Linked DNA regions of Homo sapiens: region 2 is linked to region 1. Evidence: fine-mapped QTL for protein levels in blood plasma. Region 1 holds a variant in brackets. A gene starts in the other region. All regions are shown on their reverse strands.

Region 1 (5,000 bases):
CCACAAGGGAAATGTCAGTAAGTTCCACCACATTTACCCGCACAATGGAAAAAATAAATTTAAAACCCCCAAAGTCCATGGACCTGAAAAAAATAAAAATCTAAAAATTTAGTGGGTCCAGGAAGTTGAAACAGATAGAACTTTTGAATCCAAAAAGGGAATACACAAAATTGAAATATGGAGAAAAAAAAAAGTATCAGAATCTATGAGTGGTATGGTACTCCGAAGAAAGAAACATGAAGCTTTAAATATATTTCTTAATTATGCAAAATGATTTAAAATAAAAGAGCTAAGCATTCAAGTCAAACGAGAAACAGAAAAATGATGTAGAAGTTACTGAGTGGATAAATTAATAAAATTGCAAATAAAAGGTGAAAAGATGAAAAAACAAAACACTAGTTCTTTTGGAAAGACTTTAAAAAGGTAAATAAGTCTTTAGTAAATATAATTAAGAAAAAAGTACACAAGTAAACATCAGGAATTTTAAAAATTTACCTAGAGCTATAGAGTATCAAAAATATGAGAGTAGCATGCTACTTATTAAATATGAATACACAATTAAAATGACAATTTTCTAGGAAAATAGAGATTACCAAAATTGGCCCAAGAAAAAGTAGAAAATCTGAATAGAAAAATAAACTAGATAAAACTGAAAATAAAACTAGAAAAAACCATAATCAAAAGTCCTCCCCGATGATATTCCACCTAAGAGCCTGCCAGGGCCAGATAGTTTTACTGGTGAATTCTACCAAACTTTAAGAAACAGAAAATGTCCATCTTATATACAAACTGTTTCACCACATACAAAAATACTAAAAGCTAACTAGCTCCTTCCACAAAGCAAACATATTATTAATAACAAAATCCATCAAGAACAGCAGAGCAAAAAAACTGTAGCCCAATCTCACTTAAAAACAGAGCTGTAAGCATATTTCATAAAGTATTAGTAAACAGAACTAGATATATTCATGGAAATAAATAAACTTTTACCCTTTTTGTGGTGTTATTTATATATGTGCGTGTGTATATATTATATATAACTATATATTATATATTATATATAATACATATATAATATACACTATAATATATATATAATAAATATGCTTATATAATATATACACAATACATATACTTTATATATATATATATATAAATATATATAATACATGTATGGGTTTTTTTTTCCCATCTGGTTTCTGGCTGCCAACTTCCACAGTCCTAGTATTGGTCTTTTGTTATAATGTTGGGTGTGTCAGGCCTCAGGAAACAATCTCTCCACCTGCCCCTCCTTCCACCTGCCCCAAGGTAGGACTCTCATCTTCCCTGCTTTTGGACTGTGGGTCTTAAGATCCTCCCCAGTGAGGGTCCCACCCTATACCCGGGAGAAGAAATGCTGACCTCCTGAAGCTTCCATAAAAACTGGGTTGGGGGAGCTTCCAAATAGTTGAATGCACGGCAATTCCTGGAGGGTAGTGAGCCAGGGAGGTCACAGAGGCTCCGCACCCCTTCCCCAATACCTCGCCCTAAACATCTCTTCATCCGTATCCCTTGTAATATCCTCATAAACTGCTAATCATCAGTGTTTTCCTGAGTTCTGTAAGTCACTCTAGCAAATTAATCAGACCCAAAGAGGCACTCTGGGAACCCCAAATTGAAGCCAGTTGGTCAGAAGTTCCAGAGGCCCGGACTTGTGACTGGTGTGGGGTGGGGAGCGGTCTCGGGAACTGAGCCCCAAACCTGTGGCATCTGACACTATCTCCAGGTAGACAGGGTCAGGAATTGAATTGGCCAGGGGTCACTGCTTGGTGCCTGGGGAAAAACGACCACACATTTGATTACGGAGGTCTTCTGTGTTGATGACTGTTCATGGAATGAGAGCAAAGGAAAAATATGGTTTGAGTTTTCTTCAAACATCATATATAAAAATTAAACCACAAAAATTGATCCTAGAGTTAAGGAATCAAAGTTAAAACCAAAAAACTTCTAGAGGCAGAGACAGGAGAAAATCTTTGAGACCTTGGGGTAGGCCAGTGGTTCTCAATTGGATGTGATTTTGCCCCCTCCCCTCCAGGGCCTTTGATATGCCTGGAGACATTTTTATTTGTTACCACTGGGGGAGGGGGAGTGGTAGAGTATAGTCTTAGCATCTAGTGAGTAGAGGCCAGGAATGCTGGCTGACATCCTACAATGCCCAGGATAGCCCTCCAAACAAAAAATTACCCAGGTCAAATGTCACTAGTTTTAAGGTTGATTTCTCAAGCTACCAAAAGCACAAACCATAAAAAGTTATAGTCCATCAAATTTTTTTAAATCTGTTCTTCAAAGGATATCACTGAGAAAATTTAAAGGCAAGGCAAAGACTGAAAGAAAACACTCATACCTCACACATATCTAAGAAAGAACTTGTACCCAGAAGACATGAGGAGCTCCTAAAGCTCAATAAGGAGAAGAACCCAAAAACAATTTTTAAGGGGTAAAAGGGACAAAATATGATTTTTAAAGGACACTACAAAAAATACCCAGTCAGTAAGCACATGATAATGGTGAACATCATCCAGGATTCCAATAAATACAAGA[AAAGAT/T]GTTCCTTTCTTGCTCAACATCATGAGTCAGCAGAGAGATGAAAGCTGAAACCACACTGAGATACCATTACAACTCCACTTGAATGGCTAAACCTAACACTGACAGGTGTTGACAAGGATATAGAACTGGAACTCTCATACATCACTGGTGGAAATGCAAAATTGTAATTCGGCATTACAGTCTGGTGGGTCCCATGAAGTCAAACAGCTGCTACGCCCACCTCCTCATACACCATTCATGACCAGTTACAACATTAGCAAGAGCTCTCTGTGGCTAGGACAATCCAAAGAAGAAAAGGAGGAAGAAAAAGAACAGCACCTGCAAAGTGATAAGCTACTCTCTGCCACTAGGCTCAGTTCTAGAGCCTGCTCAGTTCTTTCCCCAATACAATAGTTTATATACCAAGATCAAAATAGGGAAGGGAACATCTCAATTATTTCTCTCAGCCCCATCTTTTAAAAATCCCTCTCTCTATGAAATGCTGACAAAAGACGTGAGGCCCAACGCAGGCATTCATTTCCTGGGAATCTGTCAGGATGCTGTTCTGAGAATTAATCCATGAGATCTAATGTAACCATAATTAACAACCTTAGGCTTCCACATACACTTACTGTTGAAATGCACACACACAAATGGATGTGATCCAGGTTTAACATGTGGCCCAAATTAGGCATATAAGCACTGTTCCTTTGGAAAAATTACAGGGAAAAAAAAATCTCCTTAGAGACAGTAACTAAACCAACCTCAACTCCCAGCTGGCTTCATTATTCTCTTGTCCTCAATATAATAAAAACTTTCTAGCATTTATACCTAAACAATTTGGGGAAAACTTGTCCTGTACAAATTTTGAAGCTCTTAACTACCTTAAATCTAACCATCCCAAAGCATTATTTTATCATTAATGCACACTGCTAAGACCTCACCCATTAAGCATCTTGTTAACACCTAACTAAAGGGTGGAAACTTGCATATTACATATATAATATGACATTTTACAAAGTTTAAAGCATATGGTAATAAGTAAAGCCACTGACAAGCTGAGATCACTTTAGACACTGTTGTTGGTTTTGCATGGCCTGGCCTCTGCTCCTCTCCTCCTGAATGCCCTCTCTTCTTGCTCTACTATTCCCGCCCTCCACTGACCTTCAACACTCCTTCCTGCCCCAGGTCTTTTCTACAGGCCAGTCCCACAGCCTATCACACTAGCCTCAGAAACAAGTTTTCTACTAACTTTGTACTAGCAATATCACCTCCCAAGAAATACCTGCATAAGAATCATTAACTTCTAACTCAGCACTGGGACCACCTGGCAAGTAATCCACTTGACACTTGAAAAATGCTTTGCTGAGTCTCTCCAAAAAAAACCATGCACTTATTTAAAGCGCTGCTTCAAGCCAGATACACTTTGGGAAATGAGCCTTTGTCGTGCCTGCTGTTCAATGCACAACTCAGAGGGCAGGCCCCTCCACGTGCACGGACACAGTTAAAGCTGCTGCTGAAATGGTGCTGTCTCCTTCGTTCCTCCCAATAACTAACTGCACCAGGAACCGCACCCCATCCCAGGAGTGCTCAGAGCCAAAGGTCACCTTGAAGCTTTGCCCCCACAAGGTGCCTCGCAGGCACCCCTGAAGCAGGCCCTCATGTCCCTCTTGTGGGTCTAAGCGACTGCAGATGAAAAATATTCTCTCTAGGTTCTAGAGAGCTGGGCTTGGGAGGAGAGGTAGTTTTCCTGGAAATCCAACTCCATCTTTTAGAGACAATGAGAATTTACGGCTAGGATTCTGTTAAAGCCATATGGTGTCTGGGTGCTCCAAAACCTTTGCAAGGATAATGACTTTCTGGGGGCCATACAATGAACAAGAATACTATCAATGGAAAAACACATTCCACGTATGAAATTACCAATTTACAAACATTTGGAATGTGATCCTTCTGTACATTTGGGACTGCCTCCATGTGACCAAGCAGCAAAAACAAACGGGGACATTTGTAGGACTCGACTTTTCATGCTCACAGTGGAGACCTGGCCGAGTTATTTACATTTCAGCAAACTGATGCCCAGGAACAAAATTAAAATGGAGCTTAACACGTCACACCTTGGTGACACGATAAAATTTTTTGTATCAAATTAAAAAAAAAATCAACTTACATTCCTATTCCTCAACTACATGCTACATTTACGGAAATTTTAGCCAGTTTTATCTCATAAAAGTACAGATGACTGATAACCTCCCCCGCCCCAAGAAAAGTTTTCAAAAAGTATTTAAGGAGAGGTATCAGTTTAAAACAGGAACATAAACCCAGCATGGTGCCTCATGCCTGTAATCCCAACACTTTGGGAGGCTGACGCAGGAAGATTACTTGAGGATAGGAGCTTGAGGCCAGCCTGGGCAACATAGCAAGACGTCATCTCT
Region 2 (5,484 bases), not on the chromosome of region 1:
CTGAAAAGACAGGAGGAAGGCATTAAGGAGTATCGCAAACACAAAAAAGACACCCCCTGAGCCCAGAGGTGCACATCCTCTGTTTTCTAAAGTACAGAGGGAGCTTCCCCATTACCTTTAACAGGTGCTGATTTTCTTTGAGGCAAAATGATTCAATGGAATAAATACTGGGAAACGTGTAGGGACTTAAGCCTGGAATCTAGTCCGGCCTGACTTTCTACCGACTACCCAATGGACCTGGGCAGATCAATTTTGCTCCTATAACTTAGTTACTTTGATTCAGAACAACAAACCTTTACTGCATCCTCACTGTGAGACGGGCGGTGTTAACCATCCCAGGTAAACCCTTTAAATTTGGAATAAAAGTGCACCTTAAACTGGAGACACTTTTGTCCCTCCTGTACCTCCTTTGGGGGCCCACCCCTTCCTCCTTGCCTGTCGTCGGGGTTGATAACTGTATCCAGTGAAAATTTGTATTGGAATCCGGAGCATCCACCTCCCTCCACTTGCAGCCTGAGGAATTCTGACCCTTCGGTGATTTCCAAAAGCCTCTGAAATGCAGGAAGGGGGATCAAGAATAGCGGGAAACGGGAGTTAAAGGGCTGAGTGAAGAGCAGTTCCCGCTGCTCCCGCCAATCGCCTGGGTACCGCCGCTCCGCGTCCGGCCTCCTACCTGGACGCAACTGTCTGTGAGGCGGATCTGCCCTTCGCCGGCCTCGGGGCTGGAGGACGACGCCTCCCGACGCGCCTGGGGTCCCAGGGAGGCCGTGAGGAGCCTGCGCGCAAGGGAGGAGGGTGAGCCCGGGAGCAGAAGGGGCACCTTGCAACCCTCGACCTGGAGCGCCTCACGCTAAACCTGGCGACCCCCACCTGGACGGCCTCCCACCAAACCCTCGCATCCCCCACAGGCCTTAGTTTCCCATTTGTCCTAGAGGCGCAGAACCAAACACCCTTTCCAGGTGCCTTTCTAGTCTTGGTACCTGCCCCTCGGCCAGGGAGTGACCGCTCTCTGCGTCGCGGCCGTTAGGGACGACCCCCAGGCGGCAGCCATCTTCCTCCACAAGCTCCGCCCCTCGCGTCTCCCCCGTTTCTCACCCGGGGCCTCGGGAGGCGGAGAGAACGAACAGGAGGCCGGGACTTCACGGAGGCCCCGCCCCCCCAACATGCCTATTGGGTAGTGCGGGAGGAGAAGGTGTCTGATTGGCTAGGAATGCTCCAGACGGCAGCGGCGGGGACGCACCCAGGAAGCCGGAGAGGTGCTCTAAAGGGAAGGAACGGGGCGGGGAGGAGTGAGGCGGGGCGGGGCGGAGGTGGGTCCGGGCGGGTCAGGCCTCTGAGGGGATGGCATGGGCGGAGACTGCAGGCTTCTGGGCCTGAGAGGGCTGGAGCTGGCTTTCCGGAGCCGGGGGCGGGGCGCGGGCGGGCCTCAGCTGTGGTTACTGGTGACAGGTCGCCTGACTGGGCTCCTCCCCGGGCCCGCCCCGACAGGTTTGTCTTGTGACCGCGGGCGGCCGCTGCTTCTTTCCCGAGCTTGGAACTTCGTTATCCGCGATGCGTTTCCTGGCAGCTACATTCCTGCTCCTGGCGCTCAGCACCGCTGCCCAGGCCGAACCGGTGCAGTTCAAGGACTGCGGTGAGCCCCAGGCCCGCCCAAGGTTCCCGCGCCCTCTGTGGAAGGCCCCGCCGGACCCCCGCGCTGAGACCCCTGGGGCTGGGCTGGGCGGATCCCTCGGGCGGCCAGGCTGAGCCTTGGACCCTACCTAACTGGAATGGGCTGGGTCGGGGGAGAAGGCGCCGGCCTCCATGAAACCCGACCGCGCACAACTTTGTTTCTTTCCTTAGAACGCGTGTTTTGGGGTTCCTGGGAACTCCAGGAGGTGGGCCTTTTGCTGAAGTTTCCTAAAGTTTGTAGGGCGGACAACAGAAGGGCTGTATCCAGCTCTGGTGGAGGGGTGGAGCACAGAACTTCTTTTTATTTATGCTTTGTATCTTGGAATCCCGCCTCCCCCTTCCAACTCCTTTTGCTTTTCTTTTAATTTCGTTTTTGCTGACAAGTCAAAAGTCAATTCCCCTTTTTCATCATTTATTGTTACAAATAGGACTTCCTTTGGGCTTTGGAATCTTGTGATTCTTAATCAGTTTTTCCTTGTATAAATCTCATTGTGTCTCTAATCACAGCTTGTGATACATAACTCCCTCTCGCCGCTGTGGTTGGAATCTTTGTTGGAAAATACAACAGGTGGTAGAAATTCTGAGTGCCTTCATTGAGTCGAGTCTATAGAATTGTCGGAACAGAAACTCGAGCAATGTTGTTCAGAGGTGGAGATAGAGAGATAGAACTGTCAATGAAAGAGGCATGAAACTGACTTTGTAAGATCTATGAGTGGAAAGGAAGCACGGAGATCGTATAATCAATCATTGAATTCCAGGGATGTTGGGTAGCCTACCTAAAGTCACGCAGCAGAATGGGGAGCCAGAGTAAGTGTAACCGCCCAAGGGGTTCACCTTGCGCATTGCCTAGACAGAGCGGATTTATCAAGATGGGATTTGCAGTGGCGAAAAGAGTAATTCACGCAGAGCCGGCTGTGGGGGAGGCCGGAGTTTTATTGTTACTCAGATCAGTCTCCCCGAGCATTCGGGGATCAGAGTTTTTAAGGATAATTTGGCGGGTATGGGCTTGGAAAGTGGGGAGTGCTGATTGGTCAGGTTGAAGATAAAATCATAGGAGAGTCGAAGTGAGTTCTTCTTGCTGACCTCTGGGTGGTGTCATTTGCTGCATCGGAATGCAGGATCTGCAAAATATCTCAAGCACTGACCTTAGGTTTTACAATAGTGATATCATTACCAGGAGCAATTTGGGGAGGTTCAGACTCTTACAGCCAGAGGCGGCGTGGCCCCTAAACTCGTAGCTAATTTGTTAGTCCTACAAAGGCAGACCGGTCCCCAGGCAAGAAGGGGTTTTTCAGGAAAGGGCTATTATCCATTTCGTTTCAGAGTTTAAACTATAAATTCCTCTCCAAGACTAGTTCAGCCTACACCCAGGAATGAACAAAGACAGTTTAGAGGTTAGAAGGAAGATGGGTAGGTGAGTCCTGATCTCTTTCACTGTCTTAATTTCCTCAGGATTTTTGCAAAGGCGGTTTCATAAGTTTGCTGCTTTATATCCAGTGCCCAGGTAATAGTAACTGCTCAATGAAATGTGTTGAAAACATAGATGGAAATCTTTTTCCCCTATGTCATAAAAATTCATGTTGAGACAAAAGCAAAGTTGGGGATTAGGGGACAGGATTGATTAAGGAATGGAGTGCTGGCCGATTAACACTTAAATGCTATTCCATTGATTTAGGAGACTGGCACTTGAAAGCTATTATCGCTTCAAATTACTGCCTTTCCCTCCATTAAACTTAGTAGCCAGCGTTTGGATGAAGACACTATTAATTTTAATAACTCATTCCGGCCAGGCACAGTGGCTCACACCTGTAATCCCAGCACTTTGGGAGGCCAAGACGGGCAGATCACGAGGTCAAGAGATTGAGACCATCCTGGCCAACATGGTGAAACCCCATCTCTACTAAAAATACAAAAATTAGCTGGGCATGGTAGTGTGCACCTGTAGTCCCAGCTACTCGGGAGGCTGAGGCAGGAGAATCGCTTGAACCCGGGAGGTGGAGGTTACAGTGAGCCAAGATCACGCCACTGCACTCCAGCCTGGCGACAGAGCAAGACTCCGTCTCAAAAAAATAAAATAAAATAAAATAACTCATTCCATCCTCACAAGCTGTCTTACAGATGAGGAAAGCGAAGCACATAGAGTAACTTGCCCAAGATCTCACACCCAGTAAGTGGTAGGAAACCGTGGGTCTTTGTGAGCCACTTTGGGTTTCCAAAAAAAGAAGGGAAATAAATCCAGAAATTATTCTACTTATTTGAAAAAGCAGGAGTACACCTATGGGAAGAAGCTTTTAAAGGGAAGAAGGGTTTCAGTTACAGATTTATAATTTACTTTTGAATTGGGAAATATGATATAAAGACTTCAGTGCCCACATCAAAGATTTTTGTGTTCCACTCTACACCCACCTTCCCTGGCGTGGGATTTCCTCAAGTGAGAAAGTGGACCAAGCAAACTAATTTTGTAATGTTTGCTGGTTAGAACAGAGGAGTTTGTTCTATTGACACTGGAAGTCTAAGAACCTCTTGTCATCAGAAAACTGGATGAAAGAGCTATAAGTACTACCCTTTACTTACTTCCTACTAGATTATGTGACTCAGCCTTGAAAGAAGCAGGTGGAAGCTGGACATTGAAAGCCTTAACATTAGCACTGATTTTCAATAGATTGTTGATTGAAGTTCGGGATTTCTTTTTTCCCTATTCACCAAAAATGGGTTGGAGTGGAAGAGAGTGTTTCTCAAACTGTTTTGGATGCTTAAGAGTGTGTGCAGTTTAAGAACTTTGCAATGATGGAGAAGCAAGCTGAGGGATAAAGGACTGCAAGGTACTATTTACTGACCTAGCTGGAGCAGTGTTGGTCAGTGTGATGATAGTTAAAGAGACTGTTCCACCCAAGGGTAGGTACAGGCAGCAAAGAACATCTACTTAGATTTCTGAGTTCATATCATACTTTTATAGTACTGAGCTAATCTGGTGACTGACTGCATAGCAGATAATGTACTCTCAACCTGCAGTTTGCCTCTGTCTTCATGCATTCCACTTTTGAGACAGAAAGAGTCCATCCTATTGGCTAGAAACATAATTTCTATCCACAAAGTATATTTGAGGTGAGAGGTCCAGTTTTTGTGTCAGAAGGGAACTTGCTAACCTACCCAGGAGCAGCTATTCTAGATTAAACTCATGGACTAAATCCAGATATGATAATAATAGTAAATATATGTATCACTATGTTCCAAACACTTACCTAAGATCTGTATTTGTGTTAGCTCAGCTACACCATTATCTCCAGAGAGGTAAAGTATCTTGCCTTGAGGCTATACAGTAAGTAGCAGAGATAGTGAGATTTCAAACCCAGGCATCCGGCACCAGAGTCTGCCTCTCAGCAATGATGGCTGAATGGCAGAACTTAACTTACCCTGTTACAGGCACTGTTATCAGGCAGTTCACCTGCATTCTCTCCCATTCAACTGCCCAGTCTCTGGGGCAGGAGGAAATGGGATTTTTAAAGGCTTTATTTAAACCTTTTTTGGTCAAGCATTTATTGTATACAAGTACTTTTGTCCTTGGTTAGACTGAGATTAAAATACATACATACACACACAGACACACACACACACACTTATTTTAAGAACGCAGGTTCCCAAAATCGAGTATACATCTGTAGATTGCAGATGTGTGCTTAAAATCAGTTTTTGAAACTACTTAGAAACAACCTGGACAAGTCAGATGAATCCAATTTCTTTTCTTAAATTTTTTAATTTTGAAAAATATGTATTTGTTTTGAGGATTCCCAGGGATAAATCCTATTTCTGACT

Direction of the effects. Alleles are on the strand shown, and positions count from the first base shown. The strength of an association depends on the size of the effect and on how common the allele is.
In carriers of allele T in region 1, the plasma level of the protein whose gene starts at base 1,521 in region 2 tends to be lower than with AAAGAT alone (moderate association).

What was found. PIP is the chance, under the fine-mapping model, that this variant and not a neighbour inherited with it causes the effect. The UK Biobank Pharma Proteomics Project read protein levels with antibody pairs (Olink). The fine-mapping took linkage between variants from a reference panel, not from the people measured, so its PIPs are less certain.
Region 2: NPC2 starts here. The variant in region 1 is fine-mapped to the plasma level of the NPC2 protein (UK Biobank, PIP 0.96).

What each region holds. Positions count from the first base shown.
Region 1 is chr6:159,971,840-159,976,839 of GRCh38, reverse strand. The region is part of intron 1 of IGF2R (insulin like growth factor 2 receptor); the gene reads right to left. Among named protein-coding and RNA genes, the nearest start is that of IGF2R, 5.3 kb to the right of the region's middle. The variant AAAGAT/T (reference allele first, on the strand shown) is at 2,581.
Region 2 is chr14:74,489,342-74,494,825 of GRCh38, reverse strand. NPC2 (NPC intracellular cholesterol transporter 2) reads left to right here and starts at 1,521. Exons shown (of 5, transcript NM_006432.5): 1 at 1,521-1,633. The coding sequence starts at 1,552. ISCA2 (iron-sulfur cluster assembly 2) reads right to left here and starts at 1,061. Exons shown (of 4, transcript NM_194279.4): 1 at 981-1,061; 2 at 674-776; 3 at 436-551. The coding sequence starts at 1,051. RefSeq lists an enhancer at 979-1,058 and silencers at 1,259-1,538, 1,709-1,768.